Linked DNA regions of Homo sapiens: region 1 is linked to region 2. Evidence: fine-mapped expression QTL. A gene starts in region 2. The other region holds a variant in brackets. All regions are shown on one strand. Distances are between the middles of the regions. Region 1 holds the start of MIR4642 (microRNA 4642). Region 2 holds the start of CDC5L (cell division cycle 5 like).

Region 1 (16,830 bases), 44 kb before region 2:
CATACCTGTAGTCCCAGCTACTCGGGAGGCTGAGACAGGAGAATCACTTACACCCAGGAGGCGGAGGTTGCAATGAGCCAAGATCAGGCGACTGCACTCCAGCCTGAGCAACAGAGCAAGATTCCATCTCAAAAAAAAAAAAAAAAAGTCTAAGTCAAGCCCATGGGAGGTGGAGGCAGGCGAGTAACACTGCATGTTATGTGCCTTACAAACATGAGATGGATCTAAAATTAATTTAAATGAAGAAGCTCCTTTAAAACCATTCATTTCTTCAGATTTTTATAAAAGTTAAGCTTTTATTCCTCTGCAATTTACTTGAACAATAAATTCATGAAAACTGTTAATTTCCTTTATAAATGAACCTCTGATAAATCAAACCAAGTTCCATGGCAATGATTATATGTCTCCTAAGGGAGTTAGGATATACTGGTTGAAGGCAGGCAGTACAGTACAGCGGGGTAAGAGTGAGTCACTCTTACAACCCAGCATTGCTGCCCAGCTGTTTTGAGCTGATGCAAGTTATTTAACCTATGTGTCTCCATTTCTCCATCAGTAAAATGGCAGTCATTGCTACAAGTTGTTATGAAGCTTAAATAAGATCATAGACATAAAAAGCCTCAGCTGTCCAGTGCCTGGCACAGAATAAGCAGTCAACAAATGTCAGGTCTGATTACCATTATTATTTTCCAGATACTAAGAGTTCAAACATTTTGCTCTTTTCCCTAACAACTAAGGGAGTAAAAGGATGAGGCTTTAAAAGCTTCATTAAAATTCCAACTTCAATATAAGTCTATGTGGACCCTTTCCTGGAAACACAGCAAGGAAAAACAGCTGGTCCTTCTTTTAAGTGAGGAGTTTGCCCCTTGTGGACCACAAGACCAAACAACACACACTGGACCTCTGTCCTACAGTGTAAAAATAGCGTTAGAACATGGACTCGCGGTGCTTCCCAACTCTATGGGAAGATTTTCTAACCCTGAAGTTCAAATGAGGTGAAGGAAGTATCTAAGTAATTCCACTCCCAGTATTTCCCAAGAGAAATGAAAACATGTCCACACGAAAACCTGTACACGAATGTTCATAGCAACATTATTCATAATAGGTAAAAGTAGAAGCAACCCAAATATCCATCAACTGATAAATGGATAAATAAAATGTGGTATTATCCACACAATGGAATGGTACTCAGCCATAAAAACAAATACTAATATATACTACTACATGGATGAACTTTGAAAACATTATGTTAAGTAAAAGAAGCCCATCACAAAAGACCACATATTACATGATTCCACTTATGTGAAATATCCAAAATAGGCAAATCTATTGATACAAAAAGTAGATTAATGGTTTCCTAGGGGTGAGCAGGTTGGGGGGAATGAGGAGTAACTGCTGATACAGAATCTCTTTCTGAGGTGATGTAAATGTTCCAATAATGGTTGCACAACTATGTCAATTTACTAAAAGCCACTGAACTATACACTTTAAATTGTCTTAACTTTATGGTATGTAATTTATATCTCAGTAAGGATATTATAAAAATAAGGTATACAAGGAGTAGAAACATTACCTCCACAGGAGAAAAAAAAATTCCTCATCTTCAATTCTTCTGGATACAAAATGCAAAAATACTTTTCCCCAGAAATCAAAAGCAGTACTTTCTAAGTTCTAGAAAGGCAGTAGTGGGATGGAGTTAGAGTTTAAAAAAAAAAAAAAAAAAAAAAGACAAAACTTCCACCACATAAATTTTACAACACCATCAAGGAAAGAAGACAATAATTTGTACTCACTCTCTTCCACTTCAAATATTTCTGGAGTATGTCTTTTTACGCCAGTGGTTTTCAACCACAGCTAAACTTCAGAATTGCCAGTGGAGTTTTTAAAATCTACCAGCACCAGTGCCCTAACTCCAGAGACTCTGATTTAAATGGTCTCAGATCTTTGTGTCCTTAAAAACTCCCAAATGATTCTAACAGGCAATTAGGATGTCAAACTCTGTTTCAGCCAGAGTCATTACACAAGCTAGGTATCAGTTGTTTTCTCAACTATATCTACCAAAAAGTCCTCATTTCCAATAAGATATGAACAACTAAATCCATCAAGTTACATTCAAGTTCCTTCTTCTATAATTTAACATGTTCAGCCAGGCAACAGTGGTTCACACCTGTAATCCTAGCACTTTGGGAGGCCAAGGCAGGTGGATCGCTTGAGCCCAGGAGTTCGAGACCAACCTGGACAATAGAGTGAAACACTGTCTCTCAAAAAATACAAAAATTAGCCAGACATAGTGGCACATGCCTGTGGTTCCAGCTACTTGGGAGACTGAGGCGGGAATCACCCAAGCCTGAGAGGTTGGAGGCAGCAGTGAGCCATGATCGCGCCACTGCACTCCAGCCTGGTCAACAGAGAAAGACCCTGTCTCCAAAAAAGTAAAACAATTCAGCATGTTCTAAGAATACCCATTATTACATACTCCAATCACATTTGGATTCAAACACACATTCCAAAACCTTAACAGCAAAGAATTTCAAATTAATACATATAATGCTTTTTAAAAATTAATCATACGAATTAACATTTTCATTGATAACTCAGCTATACACTATGCTCCATGGATAGTCCATTTCCAGTTTGGTTTTACAGCATAATACCTATACTCAGAAACTGCTTAATTAGTCATCAAGGTACGTTTAGTATTATCAGTACCCTGTATCTTGGAATTACCTCACCTCATCCAATGGAGTCATTTCTTATACTCAAACCATCAGAGATTTTAAAACTTCAAAGTTGTTAGCTTTCCTTTAATGCCAACAATTTTATTTCATTTAGCTCAAGCTTTGCAAGTCTTCTGGCTCAAATATTGCGCTAAGGTTCCAAGCAAATATGGACATAAATTGTACAAAAATTAACTTAAGCACAGAAAAAAATTAATTTAGCCAAATAACTATATAGTCATTAAACATATAAAGAAGAAATGGACTACAGCTTTTAATATTCAAGTTGAACTTAGTTATCTTACGCCTGTCATTTGATTATTAAAACACAAAGGAGGGTATCTGCATGCTTTGTAAAATGCTCAACCTATGACTGCTCAATATGCTTTAAGAGGAAAAATCCTAACCTACAGTTTCTGGTCTTTTTCAAGCCAATAAACCTCAAGCATGAAATGTACATGCATACAGGGACAGGACTAGCTTAAATCAGCCCAGCTCCTCCCAACACCCATCCACACACAGAAACAACACTGAGGTACAAGAGAGTATAAAACTTTATTTCCTAAAATTCAAAGAAAAAGGGAAAATCAGACTCAGATTTAACCAGTCAGATTTCTAAATTAATTTTTTAAAACAAGCACTAGCAACTGCCCTGATGGACACCTTACTTTAGAAGCCACCACACTGTGCTTTAAATATGTACTGACAAAAAATTTCTAATAGTCTTAAATAAAATGAAGTTCACTATCACTGATAGGAATTTAAAGTAGACCGACACTTGATACAATTAAAGCTGACTTGATCAAATATGAAAGGGTAAACTTCAATTCAAAGCAGGAAATTAAGAATATATCCACATACAAATCGGTAGGAAGGCCAAGCTGACAAATTTCACGCACCGTAATTCTATTTCATAATACGGTATCTAAAATTTGCTTCAAAATAATAGTGGAAGGGGGGATAACAGGGGAAACAAGAGTGGCTATGATTGATGACTGTCATAGCTGGGTGAGAATACATGAGGATTTATTATACCAGTATACTCTGGGGTACATTTGAAAATTCTTATAAGATTTTTTAAAAGTCAAATTCAATATTGTATCTACTCTAAAGGCTACTTTCTCAAGACCATACACCACAAATCATGAAACATCAATGTAGTGAAATATAATGAGACATTAAAATTTACAAATATGTCAACTATTTCAACACACCAAAATGTATACATGAAATGTTAGATTAAAATCCACGATGTAAAATCTATTTACGCTAACCAAAATCTGAGTTTTAAGCTTCACTCAGTACAACAATCTCTCTCCTAAAATCAGCCCATGTCTAAAACTTCAGACATTCCTCAAAATTTACAGAATATAAAAACTTAGCCACCCGATTGTTTAAAGTGAGGTTAGTTCCTAATACCTCATAGTATCAAACCAAGTATAATCCAATTTAGGTAACTCTAAGGGTGATATAGACTTGAAGACACATGGGAGGAGAATTCCCATTTACTAACACCTGCTATTTGCTAATCATACAGTATCTCATTTAATCTTATATTATCTCAAACTCATGCTTCCATCAAATAAAAACAATTACTCGGCTGGGCACGGTGGCTCACACCTGTAATCCCAGCACTTTGGGAGGCCAAGGTGGGTGGATCACTTGAGGTCAGGAGTTCAAGACCAGCCTGACCCATGGTGAAACCCGTCTCTACTAAAATACAAAAATTAGCCGAGCGTGGTGGCAGGCACCTGTAATCTCAGCTACTTGGGAGGCTGAGGCAAGAGAATTGCTTGAACCCTGGAGGCAGAGGTTGCAGCGAGCCAAGATCGTGCCATTGCACTCAGCCTGGGCAACAGGAACAAAATTCCATCTCAAAAAAAAAAAACAAAAACTATTACTCACCCAATTTTACAGATAAGGAAATGTGAGACCCAGAGAGGTTAAGTAGGGCACAACTGCTGGCATCATCACTGAGTGGCTTTGTGGCTTGCCCTAGGCCACAGCCACCAGGGGACGATGCCATGCAGTTGTGCCCTATTTGAAAGTCCAATACACTGGTCACACCACTGCTAATAAACTGACTGTCCCCCTCCTTGGCTCAGCCCCCTGAAATGCAAACATGCCTGAAAAAATTTAAGCTGTGGAAATGAATGGCTTAAATTTCACCAGACAGCTCCCTGAAAAATAAATTATTCTAGACACATGTAAACAAGAAATAAGACCTTAATTAGCAATTCTGCCCATCATTCTTACCCTGATTTAGACTCTCACCTACATGTACCCACTTATAAGAATTTTGACACCTGAGAAAAGCTTTTACTTTCCTCAGTTTGTATTTTAAAATTCTAAATTCTTTTATTAACAAGCTATAAAACTATAAGAAAACAAATATCTCTCAAAAAAATTATACAGAAAAAAAGGTTCCACTTACCACCTTTTTAGAAGTAGGGTGGAATATAACTAGTGTTTAATCATATTTACAACTATTAAATGAAAAATGTAGAATATGATCCCAGTTTAGTTTTAAACACCTTCATCCAAACATTTAAAAAAAAAAAAAAGATATATGGGAGTATGTGGGGGCAGGGGGGGCGGGGTGCATATATACACCACAATGTTTAAGGTGATTATGTCTGGATAGTAGGTTCCTTTTCTTATGTTTTCTACTTCTTTTAAAACTTCTACAAAGCACAGGTATTATTTATAGAAAGACGCCTAGAAATGTTATTTTTTTAAATGCATAGAAGAGAAACTGTCTAAAAAAGACTGGCCAGAGACCAATGGAAAACTGATGGTCCCCAGGAGATGAATCAGTGGAACCATAAGTGTTTCCTCGGGTCATTACAAAAGGGAGCTGTATGGGACTTATGAAAGTGTAACTGTTACTTTCAAGCTAAGTTTGTTAAGGTTACTAAGCTTAAGTAATTCCAAAATAAACACATTATCCTTGGGTCTCCAATACTGTCTTCAGTAAAAGTCCGTTACAGTGAGGTTCAGAAACATTAAGAGCACCCCTCACTGAAACTCTTGCTTGGGGGCCCAGAATATAACCTTATACCACTGGAAAAACAGGTTTAAGGATACCCAAAATAAACAGGCAGTCAATGGGAGCTCCACTTCCCAGTCCATCAATCAGCAATATGATCCCATATAATAGTCAAGATGTGGTTCAATCACCAAAACATTTGCAAACAACAGGAGTCTATGAGTGATTCTCCTTTAATCTCTATACCAATTACCAGCATTTTTATCAGTGAACCTTCTCTACTCTGATGAGACGCAGGTCCAAGAAAGTAATTATTGTTTGCATCTATGAGTTAGCAACCATCAGATTGCATCCCTGAAAAGCATGCTAACCAGGAAGGCAAAACCTTACTAAAAACCTTTATAAGGACAGTAATACATGAACAAAGCAATACAAGAGCACTGTACATCTGCATACATTAGGAAGTGAAATACGTAAACTGCATAAAACAAATTCAATTCATGTTGAGGCATAACAGAAGCAACCTGGTTGTATCAGGATGTCTGTTCCAGCTCATAAAGTTCTTACCAGAGACAACTACGAAATCTGTCAGTGCCTATAAGGGTCATAGCAAAGAACAGAATTTGGGAAAGAGAGAGTATTCCAAAGTACTGTGAATTCCTCTCCTGTACCACAAGTCACTTCCCCCACCTCTACACAAGGCAACATAAGCATAAACCTGCTGATATCTGACAACATATAGCACTCTACCCAGAACTGTCTACTAACTAAATCCTTGCCCTAAGTTTTCCCTCTTTAAAGTATTAAGGAAATTTTTTCCTGTGTAAAAATATCTGACTTTATAATGAAAATCACTGAGAAAATGAGATCTACTGTGCAGCCAATTTTGCAGAAATATAACCTTCAGACAAGTCAGGGGTCCTCATAAGAGCTACAAGTACACTGAGAAGGATTTTAAGTGTGTTATCTGTGTTCTTTAAGTTACTTTACTTCTAAGAAGTCTATGTTATATAATATTTCTTGACTACAGTTGACTGTGCCAGTAAATTACAGGGAGAAGTAGTATTACTTCTGGACCTATTTTCTATCTCTAAGGAAAGCCTTTCCATTTTTACAGCTAACGTGACAAAATCCACTTTTCAGCCAAACTTCCTCAACACAGCAGTTTAGATACTATTTCAAATACTATTAAATTTAACGGCATGCCTAAATTCAGACTTCTCATTTCACTTTTGCACCCACTGGAAATTATTTCACTCAAAATAATTATGTCTTCAGATGATTTCCTATTTCCACTTAAAGTAGAAACAAATTAGAACACTTAAAATTCTATTTGCACTTCCCAAATACAGTAATGACTCATTTATCTGGCATCATCAGAAAACGAGGTTCTCCACACATTAAGCATTTTCCAGGTAACTGAAGCCCACAAACACAGAGAACTTGTCTGCCTTGTTCCTTGCTGTTATCCCCAGGACCTAGAACAGTATCCAGTAC[G/A]TGGTAGATAGGCAGTAATAATTACTGAATGTGTGAATAAATAAAAGTACTAAAGCTCTTTTATTTTTAACCATTTGTGAAAATGTTTCCTACACTGAATTATAGCCATCCCGCCCTTTTAAAAAAACATGACACTGAAAAGAAATAAAGTTTTTCTTATTAATTTGGGATACCACTATAAATAGCAATCACTTTACTCCCCTGCAATGTATCTTAGTGTCTTTAAAGCTATTAAAATACACTGGGCTTTTTGCCACCATGTAAAAATGGACACAGCATGGTATGCTCTCATAACTTTTCCTTTCCTTATATTAACTGTCATTGCTGTGTTTGCTCTTGCTGTCTTATTTTACACACAAAAGTCTGGCAAGGTTCTAAACTCAATTCTGCCTCCAAAGCAGAATAAAATACATGGACTTGGTTACAATTCAGAAGTCTTTTCCACTTATTTCTGACCTGTAACTGCATTCTGATTCTATTTATTTAACAAACTCCTTGCACACACACATCCTCTACCACATTCTACATAAAATCTGAGATGGTTCTATTAGTTTTAAATGAGTATCTTAAGGATTTTCACTTAAGTGCTAAGTTTCAAATATTAATCATGAGTAATGAATGGCTCAAAGACTACCTCCAATATAAACCTCAGGGCATTTTTTTTTTTTAATCCATTCAGGAGACACCAGCCACGACAAAGCTGGACTTCATCTTGCTTGATAGGCAGTGATAGGGCCATAATTTAGATTCACGGTTCCAAAGTTCATGGCAGCAAAAATCAAACACACTGGCAGCCATGGCATACAGTGCTTACAGAGAAGGGCTTATCTCCTGAACCTAAGAGTGGAAAGGATAATTTAAGTATAGCATTTAGTTTATACAATATAACTGGAGTTCCTTCCCCACAACAAACTTTGAATAATGTTTATAATTTAGCAATCAACTGAAATGAAAGAATTACCACAATTGAAATAAAATATTTATGTATTTCAAACCAATAGAACTGTGTCTTCAAAAACTAAAACAAGCTAAAAGAAACCTAGTTCTGAATTAGTGATGGATACAAATAAAATGGGGGTTTGTTTATTCAAGTCTTTGAGCTGCTTTTCTTTTTTTAAAAGATTTCATGAACTTTCATTTGAAATAAGCACAGTTTACCAAATTAAAGGACTTGATTAAGTATTCTTTAAAAGTAACTAGCTGGGTAAACAATAAAGTAAGTTATCCAAGAGTCAAGAAAAGAAAAATGACTTCAGACTGCTTTATGAATATTCTCCAAAATCACCAATCCTTCAACAAAAATAGTTCAACGGAAGATTTCAGTTCCTGGTACTGAACTGAACAAAGAGAACCACATGTTTTTAATGGTTGCTCATAAACGACCCAAATAAATCTCCAAAAGAACAGGAGTGGCTCTTTCTGTATTTTTCCCTTTAAAATTCATAAGACCAATTCAACACAGAAATAAAAATTACTGTACTTTATGGCACCACTCACTGTGTGACACATTTATTTGCTGTCATGAAAGTTAGTACCTCAACAAAGTAAATGAGATTTAGGGAGAAAAAAATTTTCTACCATTTAAAAAAGCACAAAATGTTCTTGCCATTTGCGGCAAAAAGAGTTTACCCACCTCAAATGAGAAGATTTTCATACTAAGTAAGAAACCTAAGTATTTATATATAAATAATACAAAGAAGCTTTCCAAATAGCTTTTCAATCAGTGATGATGCTGATATTAGATCACAATTACACTGCTAACTACCATTTATAAGAAATGAAGCCTACACAACAAAAAAATGTAACTTACAATTTAACCACTGATGTTCTATTTTCCCTGGCTTTAACACTGAACCACAACACAGAGCAACAGCACACCCTGCTGGAAGTTGGTAATACAAATAATTAGCAGCACTGAACTAAGATTTTACCCAAGATGAGAATTACTTCAGAACCAGTCATTTCTCACTGAGAAAAAAAGAGGTTCACAGGCATTAACCATCAGCTACCTATATATATGTGATCTTAATGGTTAAATTAAAACTCAGAATAACTCAAATTAAAAGATACTGCTTTTTCCTGCTCATTTCCTCAGCCCCATACAGCCCCAACCACCCCAAGTGATTTTACTACTTCTGGCTTTAACCCTAAATAAAAATATTTTCAAATGCACTTTTTGTAAAGAGAAACTGGTAATCACATAAAAGAGGAAACCAAGACGATTTTCTGTATATGACTGCCTGAAGTACCCCTTCTCTCCCATCCCACCTTGGCCTTAGAAATGCCCCTAAAGATTACCATTAAAAATGCACAAGGCATAGCCGGGCATGGTGGCTCACGCCTGTAATCCCAGCACTTTGGGAGGCTGAGATGGGTGGATCACGAGGTCAAGAGATCAAGACCATCCTGGCCAACATGGTGAAACTCTGTCTCTACTAAAAATACAAAAATTAACTGGGCGTGGTGGGGCGTGCCTGTAGTCCCAGCTACTAGGGAGGCTGAGGCAGGAGAATCGCTTGAAACCAGGAGGTAGAGGTTGGAGTGAGCCAAGATTGCACCACTGCACTGCAGCCTGGCAACAGACTGAGACTAGGTCTCAAAAAAAAAAAAAAAGAATGCACAAGGCAGCCTGGTGGTCTGTGAACCACAATTTACATGCCATTGGCAAAATGCCTACACAGATTCTGGAATTCAAAATATGCAAACTATATTAAGAAACCACATGTCCTGAAACTGCATCTAGTATGTTTTCAACATTTTCACAGACATGAAAAATCATGGAAGCCACTAACTAGATAATCCAGCTCTGCCCTCCCTAACTCAAACTCACAGTAATCCAAGGATGAACAGAATTGTATTTAAGTTTTGTAAATGTACTCTCTTTGTTATAAAAAGAAAACTCCTCGTTACTGCTGAGATTCCTCTTCAGAGAAAACAGGCTATGCTAGCAATGACCTGCCTGTTCTGAGTGACTAGTATTGGCTTCTTGGCTCCTTGCTCCCACATCTAAAGGTTCTGATTGACCTCTGGTCAACTTGCAGGGCACTCTTTAGTCATGAAGGCCAACAATTCTTTAAAAAAAAAACAAAAACAAAACAAACAAAAAAAAACAATGAACAAGGCCAAGAAGATCCAACACTTAAGTGTAGTTTTCTCCAACAACTAAAAAGGCAATAAGCACCTCAGGTGTGTTTTTCTGACATTGTCTCCAGTGGCATTATTTAGTTCATTATCTCAATCAAAGTACATTTAAAATTAAAATTTTAAAAGGATACCAACCTCGAGCCTCTTTTCAAGTGATTCAATTCTGTCCTTTTTACTAGCCAGATTGGCCCGTGTGTAGCGGCTCTGCCCAGGAAGATATAAAACTTGACTGTAGCATTCTTCCCACACCTGGTTATAAGCTTCACTTGAGAGCTCTCCATGGCTCATTCCTTGTTTAACCACTTCCATCTCCTGCACCAAAACATCCTGGGCCTGTTTACAATAATAATTTCAATAAGTTTAAGTACTACAAACACTTGCCATATCCAGAGAGCTTTAGAAGACTAATTTTTTCCCTCATGCCTTGAGTCAAATCCAAGATGTGGTTGGTTGTTTTTTGGAAGGGTGGATAACAATACCTAGGAAAAATAGCTTAAGAAGCCTTTGAGTCAATGCAGACTGCTTTTTAAAAATCAAGCATCCATGTTTCCTCAAAAGTATAAACATCCTTTGCTTTCACTCACTATAACAGCAGCTATCATTTCTCAGGTACCTATTGTGTGTGTGAGAAACTAGGTTTAAAAGTTTTACCTACATTATATCCAAAGATCATAATCACCTTACAAATTAGCCAATATTAACCTCATTTAAAAGCTAATGAAATTTGGCCAGGCACGGTGGCTCCCTCCTATGATCCCAGCACTTCGGGAGGCTGAGGTGGGCGGATAACGAGGCCAGGAGTTCAAGACTAGCCTGGTTAACACAGCAAAACCTCGTGTCTACTAAAAATGTAAAAATTAGTAGGACGTAGTGGCACATGCCTGTAATCCTAGCTACTCAGGAGGCTGAGGCACAAGAATCCCTTGAACCCAGGAGGTGGAGGCTGCAGTGAGCTGGGATCGTGCCACTGCACCCCAGCCTGTGCAACAGAGTGAGACTCAGTCTCAAAAAAAAAAAAAAAAAAAAAAAAGCTAATGAAACTAAGGCTCATAGAGATTCAACCACTTGTTAAGACCACATCGTTAGTAGGCAGATGAGGCAGAATACAAATGGCACCACTGGGTGTGCCCCTTCCACTCTCCCACTCCACCATGTGTGCAGGACCTCACGTGATGGTAAAGGGGAGCTAGGCATCTTTTTGTCACATGGCATTTTTCTCATCCTGAAGGAATGCCCTGACATTGCCAGATAATGAGACTGGGGCACGAATTAGATGATAGATCATAAACCAGTTTAGTTCACTACTAAAGAAAATAGTGTAAAATGACAGAATGAGAGGGAAAGCTGGACAGGCCTGGGTTCAGATCACAGCTTTACCATTGAAGCAGCTCTTTGAGCTTGCTTAATTTATCTGAGCCCATTTCTCAGGGCTTTTTCAGCCTGGAAAGCTGAAAAACAGCTTTCCAAGCAATGATGATGCTGACCTTAGATCAGATGTGTTTGTTATTAGGATTAAGTGAACAATATACTATAGAGCCTAGCCCAATGCCAGACACACAGAATTCCATAAGCATATGAATTTTTTCCCAGCCCTTTGCTTCATGGCTTATGAAAAACTGGGAACCACCTTCTGTGCCTTACAGAAGGCTTTCAATCTTTCCAGTAATAATGAAAATAAACACATCAAAATCTACAAAATCAAGAGAAATGATTGATAAACAAAAAATTTTAACAAAAGAAACGGAAAATCATCTCTATAGAAGAAAAAATGGACACTTAATACCTTAAGGGAAATAATGGAAACAAATCAATGTTAACATATCTTAAAGTATATTAAAGAAAAAGAAAATCTGACAGTTTATTAAAAGAGAAATGCTATTTCACTCTGAAACTGCACAGAGTAAAAATTTACAAGTTCAGATCTTATAATCATTACGAGAGAATATGGCTAAGTTATCTTTAAACTATCCATAAATAATCTGCTAACTAAATAGCTGCTTCAAATTCTTTTTGGAACAAAGAGAGATATACACAGATAAAATATGAGAGAATATTTAAGCTACTTTGTTTCAAACAATTACAAACCAATACTTAGAATTATTATTTTTCAAAAATTGTGTTAGGGTTTACCCTCTACAGAATCTCCAAAAGCAACAATGTGATCCTTGTTTTAGGTTTCCATACATACAATTTAGGAAAATTTATTTCCTAAATTCCTCTTCCCCTCATATTTTCACTTTCAAAAGAGGAAACTGTGCAAGTATCAATTTCGTAGCCTGATTCTCAATCCCAGTTCAATGATTAAATGTGCTCGACAGAGTAGGCAACTCAACAGATGTTAGTTTCCCTACTGCACTTACTAAAAAATGAGTGACTCAGTTATTCTGAAATCAGGGACAAGTTATTGAAATATAAATCGAAACCCTCCTTCCTTTCTCTATTTTCTAAAAATCCTATAATAAATAATGTATTACTTATGCAATAAAGAAAACACAAAGTAAGAAATTGTGAAAAGCGAAGAAAGAGGAAGAATGCAGGAGAGAAGACAGGAGAGTTTGTAAGAATCTTGTTTGTTTTATCCTAAGTATACAGCAGCTCATTCCAAATCCATAGGTCTATCACTGCTCCTCAGGGCTGAAGGCTAAAGAAAAAAAGACTTTTAAGCTAATGACCACTCTGCTTCCAACGATGAGACCCACTGTATCTTCTTATACAATTATGGAGATTTCTATTTACAATCACAGTTGTTTGCTCTGTCAAAACAGAAGGAATAAAATGCATGTAGAAGAAAAGACCAGATACAGACTTCATATAAGAAATCATTTCTTCATGTCCTTATCCAAAAGAGTAGGGGGAAATCATGTGAGGGGAATATATTCAGTAAAAAAAATACTTCCTTCCTTTCAATAGCTAAAAGGTTTAATCTATAAACATTTTTATATTAGTCTCTCTCACCTCTTCATATTATTCTAAATAAGTGATGTTTAAGTACTAAAGGCATCTAATTTTTATTCAGAGATAGCAGAGCTGAATACAGAAAACGGCAACTGTAACAACTGTCAACGAAGCCATTAATACCCATGAACCAAAAACACCCTGGCGGTGTTTATTTGCTAAAGGTCTATCACACTGAACACGGGGGATGGAGGTATTTAAAGCATGTCCTTTTCATAACACTTAATCTAAACATGCATCTCCTAATCATACATTTCAGTTGTTTATGAATACCAACAGGGAAAAATAAGTTCATTATTTGTCCATGATACACAGCACCTAACAACTACCTAAATCTCAAGAAGAAATATTCCAGCTCAATCATACCTTTTTCAGCTCTTCTTTGGAGAACTTTTCATAAGGATTATGTTCCAGATAGGTAATGTGCTCTGAATTATTGGTACCAAACCCTACAGTTTTGCCTTTTTTATTTCCAGATGGTTCATAAGGGTGATGTAGAAGGTCATAATGAAGCATTGTGATCATTTCTTTTTTGATTAGTTCTTCACTTTTCTGTAAATCTGTTAAAGGCGGTTCTACATTTAAGGGTCTTAGAATAGTTTCATTTACCTAAAATTTTAAAACAAATACAATTACCAAACATATCACTATAATATATTAATGTTATTACCTGTTACAGCATGAATTAAACAGCGGTTTTACATTTTCAAAAGCAATTTCCATTTTTTTCCTTCTAAATTCTTTCTGGTACTACTGAAACATTTTAAAGATTGGATTTGAGAACTACTTTGCTATATTCCAGAAAGTAGATGAAATTTTGTTTTATAGTCTTTATGAATGATGTAAAACGCAGCAATCATATAAAAAGAAACTTAAAACTTCCTAAACCAGAAATTCTAACACTTACTTCTGATGGTCTTGGCAGATCTTTCTGGACAGCTTTATGCATTCGTTTCATTTCCTTTACACGCTCTGCATCTCGTATGGCCTAAAAAATGATTTTTATATCCTTTATTGCAGCTATAGCGTATTTGATATCTCTCAGTAAAGCTAAAAACACTTTGGTATGTAAGATCATGTGTGTTCAATAGCTAAAGTTTAGAAATCGGTTTAAGTTTGTAGAAAGGCAATGCTAAGGCAACAGAAATGAATCAGTCTATTCACTCTCATTATAATAGAAACTAAGAGCTTCCAATGTCTACTAGAGCATTCTCCAAACTTGCATGGATCCATATCACGTAACAAACTTTTCTCATCTAAATGGAAAACCTAAACTCCAAAGAGACTCCCACGACAAAACTCTTTCTTCCCTTTCACTCCAAAATTACTGACTTTTAACTCAAAAAGCCAGCCAAAAAATGTATTGTTTCCTGATTCTTATGAATAATGTGGGATAACACATTAAAATTTCATGCCATTTCTGAAGGAGTAAATGTAACTCAAAGTAGCTGAGAACTAAACACAAAAAGTATCATCCTCTGTTCCCCACTGAAAAGCACATTTACATGGGTCCCCTCTAAAATATTGTTTCCACTGATGTCATTCTCACTCCAATCCCCTGAGATTCAAGGTCCCTAAAATCATCCAGCAATGGACTGCAGCTACTGAAAGGGGTCATAAAATATCAGTTCTAGTTTAGGATTCACCACTTACCCACCATGAGACCTGAGAAAGTTGAGACCATGAGACCTCAATTCATCTGAGCTTGTTGAGTATTCCTTACTAGAAATATCTGGGCCCAGAGTATCTTGGATTTCTGATTTTTTCAGATTCTGGAACATCTGCATTATACTAACTCTAATCCAAAAAGCTTCAATGAGCATTTCTTTTGAGCTTCATGTCGGCACTCAAAAAGTTTTGAATTTTGGAGCATTTCAGGTGTTGGATTTTTGGATTAGCAATGTTCAACCTGTAATACCGATCCTATTTATATCACTGTGCTGTTACGTGCAAATGAGAAAGTAATTACGTATAAGATATATTAGTACAAAGTGTTACTAATATTATTTTGACACACTCTATCTAAATTTCCAACTCCAGTTTAGATAGAGGTCTTACTATGTTCCCCGGACTGGATTCAAACTCCTGGGCCCAAAGAATCCTCCCACCTCAGCCTCTCGAGCAGCTGAGACTACAGGCTCGTACATCGCACCACCCAGGAACCAAGATGTATTTGTTTTTAAGACTAACCAATAACATCTTTTCTTTGCTAGATTGAAGCAATGTCTAAAAGACTACCTATGTGTATTTTAGAGAAGCATAATGAATTTGACAGAATGTATTTAAATTTCCATATATATATTTTTAAGAATGCTCATCAAAATATTGTGAGTATGTTAATTATGTGAGGATACATTATTAATGACATAAGTTATTTACTTTAGAAGTTTTTTCAATATTAAAAAGGACTAGGTAGAGATCTTGGGACATTTAATGGCTATTCTTCATTCTTCCAGCCTACTGACACATTCAGCCAAACTCACGCTTCTTTCAGTACAGTTACCCACCTGCTTTCGAGCATCCACATCAGCAGCATCTTCAATGTAAGTATCATCTATTTCACGTTCTTCCAGCTCCTTCTCGGCATTTTCTGGTAGAACAATTTCAAAATCATTCTTAGGGGCAGGAAGGCCCAACAACCCTAAACGGAGATGTTCTCGGGATTCTCTTTCCTGTAGAAAAGAAGTGGTCCTTCTCAATTCATGCATATTAAACATTCCACCAGTATTTTATGAGTCTCTTAAAAATTGATAGCACAACAGGGTGACTCTAGTCAAAATAACTGTACATTTTAAAATAACTAAGAATAATTGGATGGTTTCAAACACAAAGGTTAAATGCTTGAGGGGATGAATACCCCATTTTCCACGATATGATTATTACACATGCATGCCTGTATCAAGATATCTCATGTACCCCATAAATATACACACCTACTATGTATCCACAAAAATTAAAAATTACAGAAAGAGAAAAAAAGTCTCAAAAAAAATCAGCCTAATATTAATTCTAGAAAAATAATCCTGACTTCAGAGCTAAGACAAGTCTTATGTTTATTTTCTATCCCCCCTTCTTCCCAACATTAAGACCAACCAAAAACTTTCACTTGTGATCACTGAAGATACTCTGGGATATTCCAACAGGAGGTCTGAGGCCAGGGCAGAAAAAAAGACCACTTTGAGGGAACACATTTCTGACACCGAAAGTTAACAGCAAATGAAAAGAACAGGTTCAAAAGTTAGTTTGTCCTTGGACTAATAAAATCCACTCTAAAAGATACTTGAATTTGTATGTATGTGTTTATTTTTAATGGAAATACTAAATCCCATGCAGAAGAAAGAAAGTAGAGTCCTGGTTCCCAAAAAAGCCTCCTGGTACCCAGAGTTTTCCCATCCATCCTCAGTGCTTACATGTACCAGGTGTGAGGAACAGATGAGTTGCTATATCTAAAACATCCTCCATGCTTACTCATATTGTAGTCTCCATCTGAGACAGCCCCCACCCTCCTTCAGAACATAGCTCCTCTAATAA
Region 2 (16,830 bases):
CTAACTGGCACAGCACAAATTGTGAAATAGGGTAAAAACTATTTAATTATGAGAGAACAACTATCATTAGATACTTTTTTTTCCCCTCAGAACAATTTCTCTCATCCAATACATTTTTCGTGGCTCTATAGAATGGAATAATACATGCCACTATTGATGCCTTAGAACAATTCCTATGCAAGGCTGTCCAACTAAATCACATGGGAACTTGTAAAATACTCAGATTCCAAGATCACTGCTCTTCCCGTGCCTCCCACACCACCCCAGATGTACTGACTCAGTATATACAGGAGAAGCCCTGATATTTCTATTTTTAAATGCTCCCCCTGTGATAATGATGCAGCCAGCCTAGCCACAGCCTGCCTTTGGGAACCACTATGTTCAAACTTTACATTTTAGAAACTTAACAAATATTCACTGAGTGCTTCACAACAACCCTGCTAAGGTAAAGCAGGTATTAGTATTCCCCATCTCGCAAGAAAGGGAATCAAAGCTCAGAGAGATTTTATGACTTGTCTAAGGTCAAACAGCTAATAGGTGGCACACACGGGTTGAAAATCCAATTCCTGATTCTGTTAACTGATACATCATACTTTACATATTTATAGGGTACATGTGAGAGTTTGTTACATGCATAGAATGTGTAATGATCAAGTCAGTATATCTGGGGTACCCATCACCTTGAGTATTTATTTCAGACCTCTCTTCCAGCTACTTTGAAATATGTAATACACTGTTGCTAACTATAGTCACCCTATTCTGCTATCAAACATTATAACTTATTTCTTTCCATCTACGTTTGTACCCATTAACCAACCTCTCTTAATCCCGCTCTCCCACCCACACACCATACCCAGCCTCTGGCATCTATCACTCTATTCTAACTCCATGAGATCAACGCTTTTAGCTCCCACATATGAGGAAGAATATGCAGTATTTGTCTCTCTGTGCCTGGCTTATTTCACTGAACATAATGACTTCTACTGCCATCCATGTTGCTGCAAATGACATGATTTCATTGCTTTTTATGACCAAATAGTATTCGTGTGTGTGTGTGTGTGTGTGTGTGTGTATACCATTTTTTTTTTTTTTTTTTTTTTTTTTTTTTGAGACAGGGTCCTGCTCTGTTGCCCAGGCTGGAGTGCAGTGCTTGATCTCAGCTCATGGCAAACCCAGCCTCCCGGGCTCAAGTGATTCTCCCACCTCAGCCTCCCCAGTAGCTGGATCTACAGGCATGCGCCACCACACCTGGCTAATTTTTGTATTTTTTTATAGAGGCAGGGTTTCACCATGTTGGCCAGGCTGATCTTGAACTCCTGGGCTCAAGTGATCTGCCCACCTCAGCCTCCCAACGTGCTGGGATTACAGGCGTGAGCCACCATGCCCAGTCCACATTTTCTTTATCCATTCACCCATTAATGGACACTTAGGTTGATTCCATATACTTTCTATTGTGGAATTCCTGATTCAATGCCTCCCAGAATCACTGTTAAGTCTCCATCACCGTCTCACAGGTTGCCTTCTCACACAGAATAAATAACTTGCCTATAGTCAAATAAGTAATTAATAGGAGGACTGAGGTCCAATATTCTGACTTGATGTCTCTCTCCATGGAATAGGAATGAGAAACAGGATCTTCAAGGGCTCACCTCTAGCCTCTGAAAAATCTACTCAGTAGAATTACACTACTCAGTTTTAAAGACAGGGTCTCGTTATGCTGCCCAGGCTGGCCTCCAACTTCTGGGCTCAAGGGGTTATGTTGCCCAGACTGGCCTCCAACTCCTGGGCTAAAGAGATCGACCCACCTCAACTTCCTTAGCAGCTAGCACTACAGGCACATACCACCACACCCCGTAACACTTAATTAACTTAATTAACTGAATTGAAGAAACAGAAGATGAAGGGGCGCTGTTCAGAAAAAGCAACTACTCTATAACAGAAAACACTGGACATATTTGGAAAGATACTTAGAATAAGAACACTGCTGACAGAATTGGGGATCAGGTATGGTGGCTCACACCTATAATCTCAACACTTTTGGAGGCAGAAAAGGGAGGATAGCTTAAGCCCAGGAGTTTGAGACCAGCCTGGGTAACACAGGGAGACCCCATCTCTACAAAAAAATTTAAAAATTAGCCAGGTATGGCGGCATAAACCTGTAGTCCCAACTACTCAGGAGGCTGAGATGGGAGGATTGCTTAAGCCCAGGAGGTCAAAACCGCAGTGAACCATGATTGTGCCACTTCATTCCAGCCTGGGTAACAGAGCAAGACCTTGTCTCAAAAAAAAAAGGGATTCTAAAGTAGAGGAGTTCAGAAAGGAACTAAAAGAGTGAGGCCCAAGGAGTTTACAGTTACCAAAGAAATAAATTCCTCAAAGCATACACTTACCCTCATCCATATCAATTGGATCAGGCCGCGCTGGTTTTGTTTCTGGATTTGGATCTATTTCTCCAGGTTTAAGTTTTCGTGGATCATCTGTTGTTTCCTCTTCATTGTCTCTTTGGGCAGCTTTATCCCTAGAAAAAAGCCCATAGGAGTTAGTCACACTACAGTACCATTTAGAGTTAAAATTACCAGATTTCCAAGTTCTGACGATATTTTTCCCCCCAAAAAAACCAATGGATGGGCTTTAACAACATAAAGCCTTTTTACTATCACTTCATCTGAAAGAAATGATATTAAAATTTGCTGATTTCAGTGACTGGTTTCAATCACTCTAAAATAGAACCCAAACAGATCCTAATCACAAATGCGGTACAGCCATACAAATTTAAAAAAAAAAAAAAAAAAAAAAAAACTATTAGTAAAGAACCAAAATGTTCCAGTAGTTAATTCTTAGCAGTGTGATTATGGGTGACTTTTATTTGCTCTTTTACTATTTTTTCCCCAGATTTTCTATGATGAACATGCATGACTTGTATAATTCTTTTAAATTATTATTTTAGGAAGTATATGACAGAAGGCATAATTTTGATCAACCATCTGAGATATGGAAAATATTATCCAATGGCTTTAGCTTTGGGTTTACTCACATCCATAATTAAAAGTTTAAAGACAGAAAATACTCAAAGTTTATTCAGCCTCTTTCAGAACATATACATATATTCTATGCTCTTTCTGAAGACTCACTTACAGAAGAAATTCATAGTGTTCTAAGCACTGGGCCGCTGTTCTTCCAATGATTGGAGCAATGGTCCTCCACTGAGTTGGCATCAACTTGGCCAAGTGCAAGAGTTTTTCCTCTTCTTCTCTGGACCATTCTGTCTTCTTAATGCTTGGATCCAGCCATTCATACCTATTAAACATAGATCATTTTATATATTAATCAGTTACCTGGCATAAATATCCAATTTGCACAATGGATACACTGACTTGTGCTCTCATCCTTCAATTACAAAAACTGTTCTTTTTGACAACAGAATATTTGCTGTGTGGTTACACTTACCCCAGTCAATATTCCCCATCTCATCACATTCTATTTTATTTTAATTATGCAAGATTAGTAATGGTTAAAAAAGGTTACTTCACTGAATCATGATCATAAGCCTTCTTTCTCATCTATCATGTTTTTATTTATTTACGCTTTTCTAGAAATTTTGAAATATTTGGAAGACAATACAAAATCACGTTTCTTACAGTGTTTCCAGTTTTCATACTATTTTCTCATGCTTTGATTCTCACACCATGGCTTATTTCTTTAAGCATTTGACTTACACTCACTAAATTCACCGTAACCTTTCATTTGATATGTTTTAAAATTTAAGTAAAACTACTATGACATTCCCTCTGTCTTTCCTAATTCCCCACCCAGCCCACCTTTTCCATCCAGTCTACTTAGCTGGATGACAGGCAGGCAAACAGGACTTAAGTCCTACCAAATATGACAGCAGGAACTGGTACCACTAAGACAAACAGAAATCAGAACGACTTCTTCAGCCTAAAAATCATCTTCCTCTTAACAGCCAATTTCTACATTCAAAAAGCCTCACTCTGTCGCCCAGGCTGGAGTGCAGTGGCAGCATCTCAGCTCACTACAACCTCCACCTCCTGGGTTCAACCGATCCTCCCACCTCAGCCTCCCAAGTAGCCACCACGCCTGGCTAATTTTTGTACTTTTAGAAGAGACGGGGTTTTCACCATGTTGGCCAGGCTGGTCTCAAACTCCTGACCTCAGGTGATCCCAGCCTTGGCCTCCCGAAGTGCTAGGCTTACAGATGTGAGCCACCACGCCTGGCCAATTTCTACATTCTGATACTTTCCCCTAACCAGGTGCCTAGGAAATTAGGTCATTCTTATACAATCCAAAGTATTTTCCTAATGCCACATGACTTGGGGATGGTGCTAAATAACTCATGCCAAGAACACCCTAAATAGCTTCACGTGTCCACTACCCTATGATTTAAGAGGTGACACCAGCCGGGCGCGGTGGCTCACGCCTGTAATCCCAGCACTCTGGGAGGCCGAGGTGGATGGATCACGAGGTCAGGAGATCAAGACCATCCTGGCTAACACGGCGAAACTCCGTCTCTACTAAAAATACAAAAAATTAGCCGGGAATGGTGGCAGGAGCCTGTAGTCCCAGCTACTCAGGAGGCTATGGCAGAAGAATGGCGTGAACCCGGGAGGCAAAGCTTGCAGTGAGCTGAGATCACGCCACTGCACTCCAGCCTGGGCGACAGAGCAAGACTCCGTCCCAAAAAATAAAAATAAAAAAGAGGTGACACCACAGGTTCAGAGTTGGCTTATATCTTTTAATATATATAACATATTAAATATGTTTAATATATACAATATATAACATATTAAATATGTTTAATATATAATATATAACATATTAAATATGTTTAATATATAATATATAACATATTAAATGTTTAATATATAATATATAACATATTAAATATGTTTAATATATAATATATAACATATTAAATATGTTTAATATATAATATATAACATATTAAATATGTTTAATATATAATATATAACATATTAAATATGTTTAATATATAATATATAACATATTAAATATGTTTAATATATAATATATAACATTAAGTATGTTTAATATATAATATATAACATATTAACTATAAAATATATAATATTTCAACTGTATTATGAGGAAACTCAACTACTGTAGGCTTACTTAGAAAATTAGCCATTATTTATCATTTATTTCTTTGAGCAAGTAATTTCTAAAACAGCTAACTTATGCACTTTTAGAACACAATTAATTTACAAGCTGGGGCTCATCTGTCCCTGAAAGTAGACTTTGTATGCTTCACAAAGCACTCTCAAATACATTAACCCATTTAGATGACAACTCACATCTCTATCAGTCAGGACCAAGTATTATTATCCCTAATTGGGAGAAAACAAGGGCAGGGGAGAGGGATAGAAAAATGGCTTGCCTAAGACCACACAGGAAGCAAGTGACAGCTAAGTCAAACACCCAACTTCCATCTCCCACTCCATGCCTTGTTATATTACAATGTCTGCTTTCTTTGATAAGGTTCACAGAGTTGACATTTTCCATCATCATAATTAAGCTCCTTTTCTGTTTTCCACTTATTAAACTGATACATACCATCTGGCTTTGCACTGCTTTGCTGATTTTCTATGCAGCAATGAGGCAATCCTAGACCACTGATTTTTCCCATATTTCATTACCGCTGCTTTCAGAATTTCATCCTAAAAAAAATTGCCAAAGAGTACATTCAGTCACAAAACTCCAAGTGGGAAAAGACAAAATTTAAATTAACTCTGATAGGGCTATTGGAGAAAGAGACATATAACATGCACATACACACCACCTAGGTTAAAAGACTAAGGATGAAAACCTCATTAACTATAATAACAGCAACCAAGAATTGAGAAATTAAGAAGAAATCCCTTAGAAAGACAGCTACCCACCCTTACACCACACTCTCCAATAAATTGGGAGTGGGAACAGCCCAATCTGAGAAACCCTACTTTATGACAAAAATTAAGAAAAAGTATTCTTCAACGTGTGGCTGTCCTTCTCTTCAAAAAGGATAACTAAAAAACACAACAACAACAAAAATGTATAACTCATTCATTTATACACTCACTCAAAAAACACTTCCTGAACATCTACCTTGAAACATCTACCTTTCCCTTGGGGAAAGGTCTTATCAAACAGGACATATCCAGGCCTCAAGAAGCAAGTTGGGACTCTGGTGAATATATTCTCCAATCCAAGCCTCCTGTCTCAAGTTTATACATGGCATTTCCCCTCCAGCCCCTTAACCCCAACTATGACCCAAGAATCCACATCTCAGGTCTAACCTAAGAATTACATATTTCTACCCCAACCCCACTAGTCAGCTCTCCTTCCAATTTCCCCCCATCTCTAGATACCATTTCACCAGGGCACCCATTGCCATGTGGAATGCACCAACCTCAAGGAAGCCTGGCAAGCCAAGCCAAAGACAAGAAAGTTAATGGAGCCATAGATGCATGCACTTAGGCGATTTTACTTCTAGGCTTTTTTTCCCACATTGGATTTGAGGTACGTGCCTCTTGAGATACCCCACTCCATCCTCTACATCTCCCATGATCAAAGATACTTTTTAAAAAGACTGCAGAGCTTTGACCACTGCATAGGAATCCTACTGTTACTTGATTTTATATCTGTCTCTCCCTCAGAAGTCATCTCTTCTCCAATTTAAACAGTCTGGTTCCCTCGGTGGAAGCTGAGGCAGTTTTCATTGTCTTTTTTGTAACTTGGTTGCAGTACAACTACACTTAAACACATTTTCAATTAAATAGATACAGCAGATACCTACTCTACTTGATTCATTCTGCAAATACCTGTCGAGCAACCTACTTCATGTTGGTTACTGTCCTAGGTCCTAGGGATACCAAGACCTGGTCCTCTCGCCATGCTGTCTGGTGAGGTGAAAGAGCAACTAGCTCTTACTCAGAGGCTACTATGTGCCCTACTCTGATCTAAATATTCCAAACGTATTAACTCGTGTAATCCTCAAGAGAGGTTAAGTATTATTATCCCAATTTAGAAAAAGTAGAAAACTGAGGCTTTCAGAAGTTAAGAAACTTACCGAGTACCACACAGAGGATGTGATGCTTACAAAAAGACAAAGCAAGTTTTAACAAACGGAAGAAAAAGGTATCATGAGAATATCGGGGGTGCAATTAATTCTTACAGAGATTCCAAGAAGTGTTTCCGAACTAGGTTTGAAGGATGATCAGAAAGATGTCAAGCGCTAGGAAGGCAAAAGATGTAAAAAAAAAAAAAAAAAGAAGCCATAAAATGTAACGAAAAAAAGACACAGAGCATGAAAAGACATGATGTGCTCCAGAAACTGATAAATTCGGTACACTCTGAACACAAAACGCACTAAAATCTAATTTCTATTTCACTCCCACTCTACTGCCCTTTGGCTCACCAATGGCACTATCCACTACGTTTCTGGAAACAGAGACTATCCTAGGCCAGTTTTTCCTTTCTGGCTTCTATCTAGGCAAAGGCAGTGACAGAAAGAGACAGACCTTGGGATCTGTCGAGATGGCAGACAGGTTATGCCCTGATAACAGATAACCAGAGAGATGCGGGCATAAACGGGCTCTCTGAACCTGGCACTCAAACTGCTTCCCCTCTGCAAGGAAGTCAATGGAGACACAAAGTTGTGGCCACGGCAACTTCTTTATTTCTGAGTATGAGACAGAGTCGTGGTGCCTGGACTAAGAGTGGATGGTGCCCCGGGGGACCAACTCTGGCTGAGTTGGAACTCTGAGTTCTTCCCGGGGCCGGGGGGGGCGGGGGGGCGGGGTGGGAGGGGGCGTATTCAAGTCAACAAATGTTCACTCAGGGCCTAACAAGTGAGCTTGGAGCCGAGTAGCCAGGTGGTGACATCACGGTCCCTGTCCTACTGGCGCTCGCACAACACGGGGCCAGACACACGGAAAGGGCCCCAAGGGTCAGCCCCCGGGCTGCCCTCCACGCAGACCCCACAGGGTCTCCTCGTCGCCCCCCCGACCTCCGCGCGCGTGCGCACAAGCTGCTAGAGGGAGCGGCGGGCAGCGGACGGCGGGAAAAGGAGACTTACCTCGGTATTCCTCCATACGCCCCCCTTGATCATAATTCGAGGCATCTTGGCGGCAGGGTGTCTCGGCAAGCAGCCGAGAGGAGCTTCAGAGAAGTAGTAACAGCGATTGGGCCACCGGACTCAAAGCCGCCACTTCCTCCAAGCGCGACCTTCTGCTTTGAAGATCTGCGCAAGCGCAAGGTGGGAGGGGGCGCAGAATAGCAAGTCTCGCGAGATATTGGGTGGCTGAAAGGGAAAAAGTGTCTTGTGGAAGCTCAGCTGCAGGAAGACTAACACAAAACCATCAAACCACTCTGGCCAAAGCGCCTTACGCCCCGCGCATGTCCAAAACAGAATGGAAGAAACTACGGCTCTCGCGAGATAGCGGCGGTAGCGCTTGGCTGGGAACTTAGTGGTGGGATTGATCGTGACGTCACCGAGTGGCAGAGGGTGGGAACGTCACGCGTACGGAATTTCAGCACAGTTGCTCCGAAGAAGGCTTTGTTAATTTATTAATCTAGCCCTTTCAAGTATTTCAGTAATAGGAATTTATTCACAGAATACTCAGGAAAATCCAGTAGTTTATTTAAGGCTCAGTTTCCTAACCTGTAAAATAGAGATCATAGTAATGCCAACCTCACAGGATTGTCGTAAGGGCTAAATGAGATCATAGACCCAGCACAGTATCTGATCCATAATAACTGCTGCAAAACAATAGCAGCTATTACTGCAAGGAGGGCAACGCCAACTTCACCCCGTCCCCAGGTGATCCAGGCTTCTTCCAGAAACCTGCAGAAACGTCACGTCAGAGTTTTTAATTCATCGCCCAGTCTGGATTAATAATGCCATTGGTACGCACTGGTATTAGACAAAGTCGAGTTGGGTTGAAATATTGTGAAATCTTGGCTTTCTCATAAGTTTGGGTAATAACCTTACTGAATCTCAGTATCCTCATCTGAAAAGTGGAGCTAACAATACCCGCCTCGTAAATGAGGAGGCAGATTAACTGAAACATAACTAAAACCCAGTGAGGTAGGGATTGGCAAACTCTCTGCTACCCCACCCCAATTACTCATGCAGTCTCCTTCATCCTTCCAGAACATCTCTGGCTCCATCCCTGGAAAATATCAAAATATTTAGTGGGTTGGGAAATGCCCTATTTATAGTACTTAGTATTTATATAGTGCCTATCTCTTTATATTTCTTCATTTCTCCGTTTGCCTCTTCTGGAAGAGCTACAGAATTTTCTTTTTCCTTTTAGCTTTTATTTACACACATTCTGTGCAATTATGGTCAGCAAGAGGGCATTTTCCATGGCCACCCTGGTAGTGTTTGCCACTCAAAGGTTTATGCTGGCGGGCAGCCCGCCCTTGAGCTGTTTACCCACTGTGTGGTGTATAAGAAACCATTGGACCTGTGGCCAGTTAAACTCAAACAAAATGTTTTCATTTGGACCTCTCCTGTAATGGGGCGGTTTTTTTTTAATTTGTTATATTTAATTTTTGTGGGTACATAGTACACACATATTTATGGGGTACATGAGATATTTTGATACTGGCATACAACACATAATAATCACATCAGGGTAAATGGGGTATCCATCATCTCAAGTGTTTATCTTTTGTTTTACAAACAATCCAATTATAATCTTTTAGTTAATTTAAATGTACAATTAAATTATTTTTTACTATAGTCACCCTGTTGTGCTATCAAATACTAGGTCTTCGAGATTTTAACACTGGAGCATAGAGGAGGTCAGTCTCTACTGACTGCTGAACATCCAACACGTGACACCCAGGAGTTGTCTACCACCATGTTTTGGACTAAGGGAAAAAAGCAGGTAAAGAGAGAGATGTAAGTCCTGACCATGTCAGAGTACCTGGATCCAGCATGTTCCTGAGTCCCAGCTGCATTCCTGTCCTTGCATTCTGATTATTAGTTTCCTATTTGTGTTAGCCACTTGGAATTGGGTTTCTATTATTTGTAAGGAAGAGTCCTAACAATTCCAGAGATGGACCAATACTCTGTCAGAGGCCTTTCAGATCTCACATTCCAAGAGTTGATGAAGGCTTCTCCCTCCCACTCAGGGCCACCTCTTTACCATATGTTACTTTTGTGAGAACTAGAAAAAGGTGCCCCTTCCTCAAGACACTTTATGCCACATGCTGGAAAATTGTCACAAAATACTGGTGTTCTGAGAACAGGGCACTCTATTACAAGAAAATTGGATCTACCATCTCCACTATGTGAATTCCACCCCTAGAGACATGCATTGTACAACTTACTCATCCAGGTAAAACAGCCCTGTCAACTGTCCCTCATTTCACCTTTGAACATGCAGATTGTATATTCCCTTTCAGAATTCAGAAAAATGCAACATCATGGAAGTTCCAGGATGTCTGAAACCAGAGCACTGTAGCCACAAACATCAGAACACAAACACACTGTTCTCCAGGATGGCCTGCTTGGCCAGCCTCCCCCACCATACTACTGCAGCCTCACCAGCCAGGTATGGGAACCCTTACAAAGAGGCCACAGGGACTGCCAACAATCTCTTGAGGGACAGCCATAAGAAGCATCTATCGTTAGGCAACCAGACTATATGGTCAGTCACTGTGAATCTTTGGTAAAGTGAGTGGCCACTGCTAAATAGTCTCACTCACCCAAGGCATTTTTCCCCAAACATGTTCCTTAGAACACCAGTTACATAAAATACTCCATTTAAAAAAAAACAAAAAATAAAAAAAAACATGGTTTTTATGTCCTCCCCTCTTGCAGAGTCACTGAAATTAAAGCCTGTAAGAAGCTGTCAGATGAAAAAATCTGTTTCTCCCTGTTGAGAGTTGAATTGTATTCCCCCCAAATAGATATGTTCAAGTCCTAACCCCTGCTACCTGTAAATGTGACCTTATTTGGAAATAGAGTCTTTGCAGATGTAATCAAGTTAAAATGAGATCATACTGGAGTAGGTTGTCCCTAAATCCAATGAGTAGTGTCCTTATAAGTGGAGAAGAAAAAAGATACAGACACACAGGGGGAATATCATGGGAAGAAAGAGGCAGAGATTGGAGTGATGCAGCTCCAAGCCAAGGAATGCCAAGGATTCTGGCAGCCACCAGAAGCCAGGAGAAGGCATGGAACACATTCTCCCTCTGAGCCCCAAGAAGGAGCCAGCCCTGCTGACACTTTGATTTTGGACTCCCAGCCTCCAGAACTGTAAGAGAATACATTTCTCTTGTTTTAAGCCACTTAGTTTATTGTGCTTTCTTGTGGCAGCCCTAGGAAGCTAATACACTCCTTTGTTAATACAGCAGATCCTTGAATAACATCATTTTGTGCAAGATCGTTTCATGATAACATTGATGAGTCCAGGCATGGTGGCTCATGCCCGTAATTCCAACACTCGGGGAGGCCAAGGCAGGAGGATTGCTTGAGCCCAGGAGTTTGAGACCAGCCTGAGCAACATAGTGAGACCCCATCCCTACAAAAATATTAAAAATTAGCTGGGCATGGTGGTGCACACCTGTGATCCCAGCTACCCATGAGGCTGAGATGGGAGGATCACTTGAGCCTGGGTGGTCGAGGCTGCAGTGAGCCATGATCACACCACTGCACTCCACCCTGGGCGAGACCTCATCTCAAAAAAAAAAAAAAATCCGCTTGAGGCCAGGGCCACTGTCTGTGTGGGTTTCTTCCAGATACCCTGGTTTCCTCCCACATCCCAAAGCTGTGCAGGTGAGGTTCATTTGCAAGCCTGCAGTCTGAGTGAGTGTCAGGGTGTGTGAGTGTGCCCTGCAATGGGATGGTGTCCTGTGTGCTGTCCAGAACTGATTCCTGCCTTGTGCCAGGATAGGCTCCGGCCACCTGTAACCCTGAACTGGAATAAGCGGGAGTACATTTCTTGTTTTTATTAATCTTTCTTTTCTTTTCTTTTCTTTGAGACAGAGTCTCACTCTGTGCAGGCTGGAGTGCAGTGCCACAGTCTCGGGTCACTGCAGCCTTGACCCCCACCCCACTGGCTCAAGCAATCTTCCAACTTCAGCCTCCCGAGTAGCTGGGACTACAGGCGTGCACCCCCATGCCTGGCTAAGTTTTGTATTTTTTTGTAGAAATGGGGTTTCACCATGTTGCCCAGGCTGGTCTCAAACTCCTGAGCTCAAGTGATCTGCCCCCCTTGACCTCCCAAGGTGCTGAAATTACAGGTATGAGCCACCGTGCCCAGCCTAATCTTTCTTAAATGTATGCATAGCTTACACTTATTTCAATGTTTAATATTAGAAGTGTTTTGGTCTTTGTTTAGAAGTTCGTTGATGTTTTGTGACCAGAAATATGCCATAGAAACTTAACTCTTGTTTATATCAATTAGCCTATGGTAAAATTGATTACATGATACATCCTTTTGCTTAAAGTTGCAGTTTCCAAAAACCTAACAATGATAAAAATGAGGACTTACTATATAGCATTTCCAAACTAATTTGACCCTAAAAACCTTTTGTGTTATATATCCATTGACACTCAGGAAACACAATTTGGGAAACTCTGGCTCAGGAAAAAGAGGTTAGAAGTCCATCCAACTTACAAAGGGGAACCAGAGATGTTAGCAGGAGGATTTTTAGGTTGCATTGTCCCCATTTCCCTACCCCTCACCCCTCTCTGGGTAGCTGGTTCTGAATGGATTGACATTTACTTAGCAGAGAAAGTAATCAAAATTCTAGTTTCCCTTTCATCCAGTTTTTTCACCACCAAGAAACTATGCAGGAAAGGGCTAAAATTAGGGGCAAAAGCCTATGGCAACAGCAAGGCATAGTTTAGAGGCAGGATTAATGACTCTCACAATCTTCATCATCTCCCCAAATAAACATGCATAATAATTTAAATAAAAATACTGTCCTGCTTTGCAAATGCAGTCATGTGTCAATGACAGGGATACATTCTGAGAAACGCATCGTTAGGTGATTTCACTGTTGTGAGAACATCACAAAATGTACTCACACCAAATCTAGATGCAGTAGTCTATTACACACCTAGGCCATATGGTATATATAACCCTTTGCTCCTAGGCTACAAACCTGTACAGCATGTTACTGTACTGAATACCATAGGCAATTGTAACACAATGGCATTTGTGTATCTAAATACAGAAAAGGTACAGTAAAAACATTTATCAGTAAAATGTCTTCTAATAATTGTTAAAAGACATTTGCAAAACAATAAAAAATAAAGAAAAGATACAGTAAAAATATGGAATTATAATCTTATGGGACCACCATCATATATGCAGTTTAGAGTTGATCAAAATGTCGTTATGCATTGCATGATGATATCATTTCAAGACAGGTCCTCTAGCCCAACCCATCCACCAGATTGCCATCCATAAGCCCCTCCTTCCCATTTAGAAATTCCTCAACCAGCATTGGGAAAAGCTAATGTCCTGGTGTCAAGTTGCTACAAAATGATTTCCAAGCATCCTAAATCCTGATAATTCATGTTGTATTGCTGAAAACATCACCTAAATTGGCTTGAGTTTCATCCATTGACAATTCCTTGTGGTGGATCCAGTTGTGGTTTTATAGTTCTTTCTCAGGGTTCACCTTTGTGGGTGTTCTCTAGGGAGTCCCCTGTGCCCTGAAGTGGAGAAATGATCCCAAGGAGAATTTGCTTTTGCTCAGGCCCTGAGGTTTGAGGGTCTTTTTGAGCTCGTTGCTCAGTTTGGGATGGATATTCCAATTGTGTAATTTATATCTAGCCCCTGCATCTACATGTCACAGGCTTAGAATATACATTTCTCACAGGGGACTTTATTTTTCACATGCGTATATCCAGACCCCAGATTTATATGCCCGACTACACCCTAGATAGTTCCACCAGTGTCACAAGTTCCTCAATGTCAAATTGCCCAACATTGACCTCCTGCCAAAAAATCTGTACTTCCCCAGCATGCCTCATTTCAGCAAATAGCACAAGGCTGCTGCATATGGTTGTGTAAGAAGTTCACTGCACAACAAGGACATGGGGATTTAAATCCAGCTTGCACACAGCTCACTAAGCTGTGCATCCACAGGGCTGTGTCCACCAAGAGGGCATCATTCTCTAGTTGTACAAAGATGCTACATGAGGTCCAGATGGCCCTGGCAACTACACCATCATCCATCCAGTTGCCATTTCTCCTTCTCGTATATTTTTACCCCACCCATTCCCAAGTCATCCCAGAGTCTCACCACCTTGACCTCCTACTTAGTCCTCAAATCTATCTCCTTTGTGCCACCTGCACTATAAGTTGCCAGTTCTGACAAATAAAAATGCAGAGCTCGGCCGGGCGCAGTGGCTCACACCTGTAATCCCAGCACTTTGGGAGGCTGAGGCGGGCGGATCACAAGGTCAGGAGATCAAGACCATCCTGGCTAACACGGTGAAACCCCGTCTCTACTAAAAAAACAAAAAAATTAGCCGGGTGTGGTGGCGGGTGCCTGTAGTCCCAGCTACTTGGGAGGCTGAGGCAGGAGAATGGCGTGAACCCGGGAGGCAGAGCTTGCAGGGAGCCGAGATGGCGCCACTGCACTCCAGCCTGGGCGACAGAGCGACACTCCATCTCAAAAAAAAAAAAAAAAATGCAGAGCTCCCATTTAAATGAATTTTAAATAAAGAACAAACAATATTTAGTATAACTATGCCCCTAAATCCATTCTGTCTAACAGAATCCCAACTTTTACTCCAGCCCAAACTGTGCTCAGACAAAAGAACACATTTCTAGCCAGATAAGCATACCCTTGCTCACAGCTTCACCACTGGAAGCTGGATCCGTCTGCTGCCCCCACACCACATTTGGTGGAGGCAGACACATTTCCTCAGAAAATAAGACATTGGGATATTTTGGCTGCTTGTTTGATATAAGGCTAGGACCCTTCATGCACACCACAAAATGTTTACTTTTCATGTAAGTGTTATAGCCTGGATTTAGGAGCCTCAGTGTTGGCTCCCAGGTGAGTCAGTAGTGGCCTCCCCATTCCTGAGGGTGGCATCAGGCCACAGTACCTCTTGGGGCTCCCCAGCATGGGAAGGACACCAGTCATCTCAAATGGGCTCCCACATCCTCTCCCAGAGTGTGCCGGGAACTTGGCTCGTAGACCCCGTAAAAAGGTGCGCCATCCTGCATCAGGCATGTGGCTCAGTTCTGGGTAGAGGTAATTATATACCCAAGTACTCTCTCCTGATTTCCCAGCCAGGAAAGAAAAGCCTCTTTAGGACAGAGACATGATCTTGAAGGACTCCAACTCTAAAATACTTCACCAAGTCAAGTCCTGTAAACAATGTGTTTACCTGCCTAGATTTTGAGACCAAAATGCCTAAGAACAAAACAAAACTAACCAAACTGAGTGCCTCGTATTAGAAATGTGGACAATTAGTGGAATCCTACAGTATATTCCTAAATTCCTTGTGGAATTTTAGAAGTTTAATATCCTACTATCTTAACATTTTGGTAACTTGGAGTTCAGAGATCACTAATTCGAACGTTGGTGCCACTAGCTGAATAATACAATGTTTCTTCATGTCCACAGAGGTCATTTTTCATTTATCCCAGGATCCAAAATTAGAATACCTCTGTGCAATATAAAATTGCACACTAAGAAATTTACTTGTAAAGTTTCACATATAGTTTATTTCTATTGAACTTCAGTTATTGAAAGTAAGAATTGAACACACACACACCTCTGCACCCACATGTTTTTATTTACCAAAGACCCTACAGTGAGGTGAAGGGGATCTTTACATCTAACAGGTTCAACCTCTTTCTAGCTGGAAAGAAGCAAAAGCTGGAACAGCTATGATATGCACATATTTTTCCCATGTGGCCTTTCTCTATGCCTTTGTCTCCCCACACACGTAGACATACTCATGCTGTCCAAAGTTGGCAGTGGAACTCTACCTGACAGCTATTGAGGTGCCGTGGAATAAGGCCTGGGCATCGAGATGTACCCACAGAGAACACCAGATCCAGCGAAAACTGCCCTGATTTTCAGGGGATGAAATGTAGCTCTGCAACTCCAGAAGTTCAATCATCTAACAGTTGTGTAGGGTTTTTTTGTTTTTTTGTGTTTTTTTTTTTTACTCATGGTTTTTGCGGCCTGGATTAAAAGAAAAAGGAATCAAATCATATCTACTTAGAGCAGCACCTAGGAATTATATAGACCTCTTTGAAACCTAGAGACTACTCCAAACCTTCTAAAACTGTATTTTGGTTGTTTTTCTTTCTTTCTTTCTTTCTTTTTTTTTTTTTTTTTTTTTTTTTTTTGAGACAGAGTCTCACTCTGTTGCCCAGGCTGGAGTGCAGTGGCACAATCTTGGGTCACTGCAAGCTCCGCCTCCCAGGTTGACACCATTCTCCTGCCTCAGCCTCCCGAGTATAGTACAGTCCTGGGACTATAGGTGCCCACCACCATGCCTGGCTAATTTTTTTGTGTTTTTAATAGAGACAGGGTTTCTCCATGTTAGCCAGGATGGTCTCGATCTCCTGACCTCGTGATCCGCCTGCCTCGGCCTCCCAAAGTGCTGGGATTACAGGCGTGAGCCACCACGCCCAGCCGGTTGTTTTCCTTAATATATTTATGGTGTAGGACTCCCTCCTTCCAAAACACCAGGGAACCTTCTGAGAGCAGTTTCCTGTGCCACCTAGATAATCTCACCAGGAAATCTCTGCAGAATCTTTTTTTGTTCTATATTGTGTCCTCCATTACTAACCCACCTGGTGGTTGCAGTTG

The links.
Region 1: its variant is fine-mapped to the expression of CDC5L in whole blood (TOPMed, PIP 0.92).

What each region holds. Positions count from the first base shown.
Region 1 is chr6:44,423,560-44,440,389 of GRCh38, reverse strand. It overlaps CDC5L (cell division cycle 5 like), which reads right to left. Exons shown (of 16, transcript NM_001253.4): 11 at 15,807-15,971; 12 at 14,207-14,287; 13 at 13,666-13,908; 14 at 10,480-10,677. MIR4642 (microRNA 4642) reads right to left here and starts at 4,749; the gene lies at 4,668-4,749. The variant G/A (reference allele first, on the strand shown) is at 7,201.
Region 2 is chr6:44,379,134-44,395,963 of GRCh38, reverse strand. It overlaps CDC5L (cell division cycle 5 like), which reads right to left and starts at 8,258. Exons shown (of 16, transcript NM_001253.4): 1 at 8,096-8,258; 2 at 5,593-5,696; 3 at 3,136-3,297; 4 at 2,391-2,518. The coding sequence starts at 8,140. LOC124901323 (a long non-coding RNA gene) reads left to right here and starts at 8,045. Exons shown (of 4, transcript XR_007059595.1): 1 at 8,045-8,925; 2 at 9,795-9,914; 3 at 10,435-10,583; 4 at 10,853-11,402. SPATS1 (spermatogenesis associated serine rich 1) reads right to left here. Exons shown (of 9, transcript NM_001372081.1): 9 at 15,785-16,830. RefSeq lists an enhancer at 8,177-8,376.